2 separate regions of the Homo sapiens genome follow, and region 2 is linked to region 1. The links come from fine-mapping of genetic effects on gene expression. Tissue or cell type: esophagus mucosa. Region 1 holds a variant in brackets; the other region holds the start of a gene. All regions are shown on one strand. Distances are from middle to middle.

What was found. PIP is the estimated chance that this variant, and not a neighbour inherited with it, causes the effect.
Region 2: it holds the start of WNK4, and the variant in region 1 is fine-mapped to the expression of WNK4 in esophagus mucosa (GTEx, PIP above 0.99).

The regions. Positions count from the first base shown.
Region 1 is chr17:42,817,599-42,821,598 of GRCh38, forward strand. BECN1 (beclin 1) reads right to left here. Exons shown (of 12, transcript NM_001313998.2): 3 at 3,176-3,243; 4 at 1,950-2,011; 5 at 1,189-1,279; 6 at 946-1,082; 7 at 623-817. Among named protein-coding and RNA genes, the nearest start is that of MIR6781, 4.3 kb to the right of the region's middle. RefSeq lists an enhancer at 182-1,381 and a silencer at 2,452-2,501. The variant C/T (reference allele first, on the strand shown) is at 2,154.
Region 2 is chr17:42,778,469-42,782,661 of GRCh38, forward strand. WNK4 (WNK lysine deficient protein kinase 4) reads left to right here and starts at 2,142. Exons shown (of 19, transcript NM_032387.5): 1 at 2,142-2,848. The coding sequence starts at 2,231. It overlaps VPS25 (vacuolar protein sorting 25 homolog), which reads left to right. Exons shown (of 6, transcript NM_032353.4): 6 at 489-1,131. The coding sequence ends at 601. RefSeq lists an enhancer at 2,215-3,172.

The sequences.
Region 1 (4,000 bases):
GAGGTGTGATCACAGCACACTGTAACCTCAAACTCCTGGGCTCAAGTTATCCTCCACTTCAGCCTCCTAAGTAGTTGCTAGGACTACAGGTCTACCACAGCAGCCTAATTTTTTTTTAATTTTCATTTTTGTAGAGATGGGGTCTCACTTGATATTGCCCCAGATGGCCTTAAATCCTGGCTTTAAGTGATCCTTCTGCCTTGGCCTCCCAAAGTGCTGGAATTACAGATATGAACGACCATACCTGGCCCCCATGAAATGTTTAAGCTTGGAGGGAACAAATGTAGGCTAATTAGCTCATCTTTTCAGCTAAGGATGGCTAGAAAGTGGCTGATTCATCCAAATGAGCCCATTCCCTACAGGACAGAGCCAAGACTGGAGCTCTGGTTTCTGCACTATTTAACCAACATACTTTTTTCACTTAATCATGCTGACTCTTCATAGGTAACTCTCCCAACAAACCTCTAGAAAAAGGGCATGGAAGCAATATGCAGGATCTGGGGCAGGCATGCTGCTGACTGACAGCTGACTAGTTTACAAACTATTCAGACACATTCAGCTGGAAGCCATTTCCTCTCCTGGAGCCTCGAGTGTGAGAAGATAGAACAGGGTGAGCACTCACTGAGCTTCCTCCTGATCCAGTCTCTCAGCCTCAGCCTGGACCTTCTCGAGATTTTCTGCCACTATCTTGCGGTTCTTTTCCACGTCTTCCAGCTCCTGGATCAGCCTCTCCTCCTCTAGTGCCAGCTCCTTTAGCTCCATCTGTAACTGTTCACTGTCATCCTCATTCATTTGCTCTAAGATCTCCAAACAGCGTCTGCCAAAGACACAGGCAGACTATACTTACTAGAGCTCCATTTGCCTGAGTGGAGTACGGCTCTTGGGTAAGGGCCAAGCAGTCTCAGAGCAGTAACAGCTCTGAGCCCTGGCTCTGGAGACACTCACTTGTAGTTCTGACACTCATTTTCAGTGACGTTGAGCTGAGTGTCCAGCTGGTCTAAAAGAGTATCTGTGCATTCCTCACAGAGTGGGTGATCCACATCTGTCTGGCCCGACATGATGTCAAAAAGGTCCCCAGTGACCTGGAAGTGTGGGAGAGTCAGGGTAGGGCCTCCCCCATGCTTCCTGCTCAATTACCCACTCTCCCAGCCAGGCCTACTGCTTGCCACCGGAATGGGGCCGACTTGCCTTCAGTCTTCGGCTGAGGTTCTCCATGGTGCCGCCATCAGATGCCTCCCCAATCAGAGTGAAGCTGTTGGCACTTTCTGTGGACATCATCCTGCAGACAGCCCCCCGCCCACGGGCCACATGAGGGAACAGAGAGGCTTCCTCCACCTACTACAATGCCAGTGGCAGAGACTCTCAAGCACCAGCTGAGGGGCCTCAAGGAACATACCCACTCCTAGCCCGACTGACCTCCCAAGGGTACCTCTCTCCCAAAGGAAGGCCATGCTGGTCTTCCACAGGGACACTCAGCATGAAGGTTGGCCTTGGTGGACTAAGGAGGGAGAGGGAGCATAAAAAATTCATATGTCTACAGTGGAAAAGAAGGGAGAACCAGGAAAGGCCATTTTAGAAAATATTATACCCCTTGCCAGCAAGCTCTTTACCTGCAGCAATGAGAACTAAGGACCTGAACATCTAACAACATTTGCTAGTTTGAAACTTCTCAAGAGCCCATCTCTTGGTGATTGGTCAATCACTCCCTCAATTTTTTTCAATACTTCATCATTAAAGCTACTATCCTTTCCCACTCTGTGAACAGCTACAGGAAAAAATCCATACTGGAAGGTGACGGGCCAGGTATAAGGGAATACATCTTTTCTGAAAGGGCCAAAAGGCTAGGTGATGATGCATCTCTATCACCTGGCTCCAGGTCTCGATTCCTGGATTTAATTAAAATTCTACTAGCCTTTGGCAAGGAATGGGGGCTGAGAAGTAGTAGGCACCTGGCTGGGGGGATGAATCTGCGAGAGACACCATCCTGGCGAGGAGTTTCAATAAATGGCTCCTGGGAAAGAAATAAGAGGGCATTACAACTCTGGCAGCTTAGAGGTAGAGTTCATCTCCCAAACAGCCTCAGAACTATATGGCTTTAGTCTTGATAACCACAAGACTTGATAAACCACAGAGACTTAAAAAATGGGTATTAT[C/T]GAAGCAATCCTTGTGTATGTGGACTAAGAAAGGACCCACGATACAGACAAACCTTAAGTCCCATTTGATTTTTTTTTTGTGGGGAACAGCATTTCCTAACTATGTTACACTCTATGTATGGTTAAATTTGCATTTCTCAACACTTAGCAGTCAGGGGCAGAGGACAGAATGCCCTAAATCATAGTACAAGGAAAAAGCCAGATCAGACTGCAATGAAGTCTGCCACAGTACAAAGTAGAAAATTTATATGTTTTCAGTATTTTGAGATTACTCATATGTGACCAAAATCTCACAGCATCTATTGACTTCAAATGCCAGACCCCTTTGCCTCCTTGCTTAAAGGCTTCTCTGGCTCCTGGACTCTTCACTGCCTGCAGGGGGCGCTGGCCAGAATTAATGACCTCCACTAAACCTGACATCAGCACTCCCCCAGTGACTGGCAGCTGTGGGTAAATAAATACTCCAGCTCCCTTGCTACTTGAGAAGAAATCTCAGGTGTGTATTCAATAGTATCTCACAGGATGTTGCTCCACAGGATCCCTGATATTATCACAGCTTAAAATGACATGTTCTCTAACACTGACAATTCTTTCTGTCCAGGGCAATCATACAATTCACTGTCCTAACCAGGATGCTTTTGAGAATGGAAAGGAGTGGATATTAACAACTAGCTAGAACAACAGATGCAAATCAATGCTCTAGAACGACCTGGACACACAGGTCATCCCATCTCCAACCTACAATAATTTATAATTCTGCTTCAAATAAAGAGCCCTTTCCAACATTTTAAAATGACTAATTCAGTAACCCTGTGACCTCAGGTGCAGATCTGTACCTCCAATGGTGCATAGCAGCCTGATCATGTAGAATGTCTCATTACCCAGAGATCCCAAAAGTCCGGGAGCTCTAGAAGCGCCAAGTAGCCTGCAGAAACCAAGCCTGCATTCCTGTTTTCATATCATATCTCTCATTTGGAATGTTTACTACATGAGGAGGATAGGGGAGAGGGCACTTCTATTACCTCTCCTGAGTTAGTCTCTTCCTCCTGGGTCTCTCCTGGTTTCGCCTGGGCTGTGGTAAGTAATGGAGCTAAGGGCAAGGAAAATATTGGGTCAGAAACAGTCTTATTAAAGCAGGAGGGCATCTGAAAGTATGGGAAAAGAATGTGAAATATTCTCATCACCACCCTCACCTCCAATTTTTCTTAAAGTACCATTTACACCAAAAGAATCTGTGGTCTTCCTCACCCCCATTAAATCAGATTAAAGAAATGTTCAATTTTTTAAGGCATAATGGTATCATTATTATTATTATTATTATTACTTTAAGATGGAGTCTTGCTCTGTCGCCAGGCTGGGGTGCAGTGGCACGATCTCGGCTCACTGCAATCTCTGCCTCCCGGGTTCGAGTGATTCCCCTGCTTCAGTCTCCCAAGTAGCTGGGACTACAGGCGTGCACCACCATGCCCAGCTAATTTTTTTGTATTTTAGTAGAGACAGGGTTTCACCATGTTGGCCAGGTCTTGATCTCCTGACCTCGTGATCCACCCGTCTCAGCTACCCAAAGTGCTGGGATTACAGGCTGAGTCACCGCGCCCGGCCGGTATCATTTATCTTTAAGAATCCTTATCTGTCAAAAATACAGAAATATTTACAGTATTTATGTTTGGGATTTGCTTCAAAACAATTCAGAGTGGGAAGGAATGGATGGGGCTGTAGACAAAACTTGATTAAATATGTGTTGATAATTGTTGCAACTAGGTGATGGGTACACAGGAGTTCATGATATACTCTGAAATTTTCCATCACAAAAGCAAACATCCTGTTTCCCCCAGAATAGCAAGGAG
Region 2 (4,193 bases), 39 kb before region 1:
GCCACCGCGCCTGGCCTGTGCTCCCAGCTAAAAGCTAGAAAAAGGGCAGATAATAGTGCTGGAGTTTAACAGTCTCCTGGCCAGGGGTACTGGCTATATTCTTTGTGTTAGGATAGATCCTCTAGGGTCAGTGTCTAGTGACAATGGCTCCGATCTCCCTAGGCCTGATTTTCACGGCCCCTTTGTGGCCCTGAAGCAGATGGTGTCATTCTCGTGCATCAGACACAAATGCTAGGTGTGGGGGAGGCTGAGTCTGAGAGGAGAACCAAGAAGGGGGAAATAAGCACAAACTCATTTCATGCTGATTCAGGCTTTCTTCCACCCCTTACTCCTAAGGAGTGCCTGGGAAGTGTGGATGGCAGCTGTAGCAGTATAGATGGCTTATGCATACCCTGCCTCTGGGAGGTCTCGGCTTCCAGCCAGAGCACTCTCCTCAGAGGCCTTGGGCCTCAGGAGCTGATTGTCTCTGCCTATCTCTCCCTGTTCAGAGTTCCACGGGCTGGATGAAGCCACTCTACTGCGGGCTCTGCAGGCCCTACAGCAGGAGCACAAGGCCGAGATCATCACTGTCAGCGATGGCCGAGGCGTCAAGTTCTTCTAGCAGGGACCTGTCTCCCTTTACTTCTTACCTCCCACCTTTCCAGGGCTTTCAAAAGGAGACAGACCCAGTGTCCCCCAAAGACTGGATCTGTGACTCCACCAGACTCAAAAGGACTCCAGTCCTGAAGGCTGGGACCTGGGGATGGGTTTCTCACACCCCATATGTCTGTCCCTTGGATAGGGTGAGGCTGAAGCACCAGGGAGAAAATATGTGCTTCTTCTCGCCCTACCTCCTTTCCCATCCTAGACTGTCCTTGAGCCAGGGTCTGTAAACCTGACACTTTATATGTGTTCACACATGTAAGTACATACACACATGCGCCTGCAGCACATGCTTCTGTCTCCTCCTCCTCCCACCCCTTTAGCTGCTGTTGCCTCCCTTCTCAGGCTGGTGCTGGATCCTTCCTAGGGGATGGGGGAAGCCCTGGCTGCAGGCAGCCTTCCAGGCAATATGAAGATAGGAGGCCCACGGGCCTGGCAGTGAGAGGTGTGGCCCCACACCGATTTATGATATTAAAATCTCAACTCCCACTGCCTGCCTCTTAAATTACTACAGTACTGGAATGGGGATGGGGAGGGCTGTGAAGTGTTGCCACCTGAGTAAATCCCAGCCTGGGAGAGGGGAGAGAAAAGAAAGCTTATGGCTTTTGTAGAAGAAAAGGTCCTCCAGGGCCCTGTGGGCTCCAGTGAGCCTGTGGTTTTACATCTGCTGGGTGGGCTGTGTGGAGGAGTGCTGATGGAACACAGCTTGGGGACAGACTGCTTTCTCTCTGAATTGGAGTCACTTAAGGGCTCCCCCTTCCCTCACCATCTCCCTCATGGAAGTCCTGAACTACTCTGAAGCCCCTCCCTCCACCCATCTGGTCTGGGTGGGGTAACTGTGGCCAAGGGGAGCTGAGGGGGGTAAGCCGGATGTGGACTTTGGTTTATTGGAGACTGGCAAACAGAAGGGGAGGAAGGAGAGCCCATATAGCAAAAACAGCCACTCTGGCCAGGGTTAGGCTGCGGCCAAGGTGGCCTGGAGGGGATGGATGACCGGGCTCTCGGTTTGGGGGAGGGACTTATCCTGGGGAGTACACACCCATTCCCTATGCAGACCAGAGGGACAACAACGTCAGACCTTTCCACTGACCTCTCCGTTCGGCCTGGGGCTACTCCGGACAGTTAGGAGGGGGTGGTGCTGCCTTATCTGGGGTGTGCAGGAGGGTGGTAGCCTCCCCCTAAGTAATCCCCCACTAGGGTCCGGGTGTCGTTCTCTCCTGCCCTCCTCCGCGCACAAACAGGTTTGCTCACTCTTAGTGCGGGAGGATGCTCCGCGGTCTCCCACTCAGTTCTGGCCTCAGAGTGAGACTGCGGCCGGGGGCTCGGGAAAGAAGGGGACGCGGCTGGGCGGGGCGGTGACTAAGGTGAGGGGCTGCTCGCGGGATCCGCACCGCGGGAGCAGCTCGGAGGGGCGGCCCTGGGGGGCAAGGGCGGGCCGCGGGGCGGCGACGGGGGCGGGGCCAGGCCGAGCTGGGGGCTGGGGCCGCAGCCGCTCAGCCGGAGCGCAGCGCACCCAGCGAGTCCGTCTGTCAGGCCGCCTCCTCTCCGGCCGTCTGATTTTCTACCCTTCGGCGCCCTGCTCTTCCTCATGTTGGCATCCCCGGCCACGGAGACCACCGTCCTCATGTCCCAGACTGAGGCCGACCTGGCCCTGCGGCCCCCGCCTCCTCTTGGCACCGCGGGGCAGCCCCGCCTCGGGCCCCCTCCTCGCCGAGCGCGCCGCTTCTCCGGGAAGGCTGAGCCCCGGCCGCGCTCTTCTCGTCTCAGCCGCCGTAGCTCAGTCGACTTGGGGCTGCTGAGCTCTTGGTCCCTGCCAGCCTCACCCGCTCCGGACCCCCCCGATCCTCCGGACTCCGCTGGTCCTGGCCCCGCGAGGAGCCCACCGCCTAGCTCCAAAGAACCCCCCGAGGGCACGTGGACCGAGGGAGCCCCTGTGAAGGCTGCGGAAGACTCCGCGCGTCCCGAGCTCCCGGACTCTGCAGTGGGCCCGGGGTCCAGGGAGCCGCTAAGGGTCCCTGAAGCTGTGGCCCTAGAGCGGCGGCGGGAGCAGGAAGAAAAGGAGGACATGGAGACCCAGGCTGTGGCAACGTCCCCCGATGGCCGATACCTCAAGTTTGACATCGAGATTGGACGTGGCTCCTTCAAGACGGTGTATCGAGGGCTAGACACCGACACCACAGTGGAGGTGGCCTGGTGTGAGCTGCAGGTGCGGCTGGGAGCCCCCTCGGTGGCACCTTGGGATGGGACTCTGGAGGTCTTAGGATGACAGACAGAGGGTGGGGGAGACAGCATCAAGGGAAGCATGTATTTTTCCAGTCAAATGTCTATAGACACCTCTGCTGTCTTTGCCCTGAATGATCTGGCTGACTCTGGGCTGCAGAAGGAGAGATTGAGGCAGGTGGTGTCTGGTGACTCCCCCATGGGTATGAACATTCTCACTTTAAAGTCTCCATACTCAACCCTGAGAGGTGGAAAATAGGATGGGAAGTTAGGCAGGGGAGCCAGTTCAGGTCAGTTTCCTGCTGGTGGGTACCCGCAATCCCTTCCTCTCCCCTAAGTCCTGAGATCCTCAGTTATGACCCTGGTCCTCTTGATCCCCTCACTCCTCCCGTCCCCCACCTATTTGCAGACCAGGAGGCTGGGATGCGGGAAGCCAGGAGCTGGGCAAGGGTCATCTCCAACTCCAGAAGATTTAGGGCAGTTGTGGCAGAATAGGGCCCCCTAACCCCTTCTGGAGCAGTCAGACTTCTGGACTTCTCCACAGCTGCGAGGAGGGGGACATAGGGAGCTCCAGCTCTCGAGTGAGTCCAGTTCTGCTCCTCATCCCACTGCCTACCTGTGCTCTCCCTTCCCAGACCTAAAGGCACTAAGCCCATGGGCTTTAGGGGGACCTTCCTCCCATTGCTCCCATGCTACATATGGGTTAGGAGAACCCAGTCAACTTGGGGCCTGAAGCTTCCGATTCAGATCAGGGGACAGAGCCTAGGGGAAGGGTCCCTCTCCAGCCCTGGCACAGGGCTCGCCCCTTGCGCCTGCCAGTGCCGCGCCCCAGGCTCTGGGCCAGGCCAGGAGAGGCAGCCAAATTGGGGGGTGAGGGGAGGGAGAGGAGCCGGGGCGGGACGACTATGGGGGTGGGCAGCCTCCTGGCGCCTAGTCCTGGATCTTTTCTTTCCTTCTCAGTACCTCCCTCCATATCCCTCCCGCCTTCCGTCTGGATCTAGCAGTTCTGTTTCTGGGGCCAACCCCCTTGCCGGCCCCAATTCCCTGCCCGCAGTATCCTGCTGCCCGCCTGCTGCCTGCTCACTGCCAGCCCCCGGGTGCCCCCTCCCGCCCCATGGCCGGCCTGGGCAGCCACAAAGGCACTATTGAGCTCAGGGCTCTGGGACCGGGCTGCATAAAGGTGCTTGTGTCCAGCAGGGGGTCTAGGGGGCTGCCCCAGGCCCAGGTTGGGTGTGTCCTTGGATCAGCTTACGTGCGGGACTGTTGGAGAGTTCAGGGTCTGCAGCCCACTGGGCAAGTAATCCCATTAACCCCACCCCATCTGTGGGCTC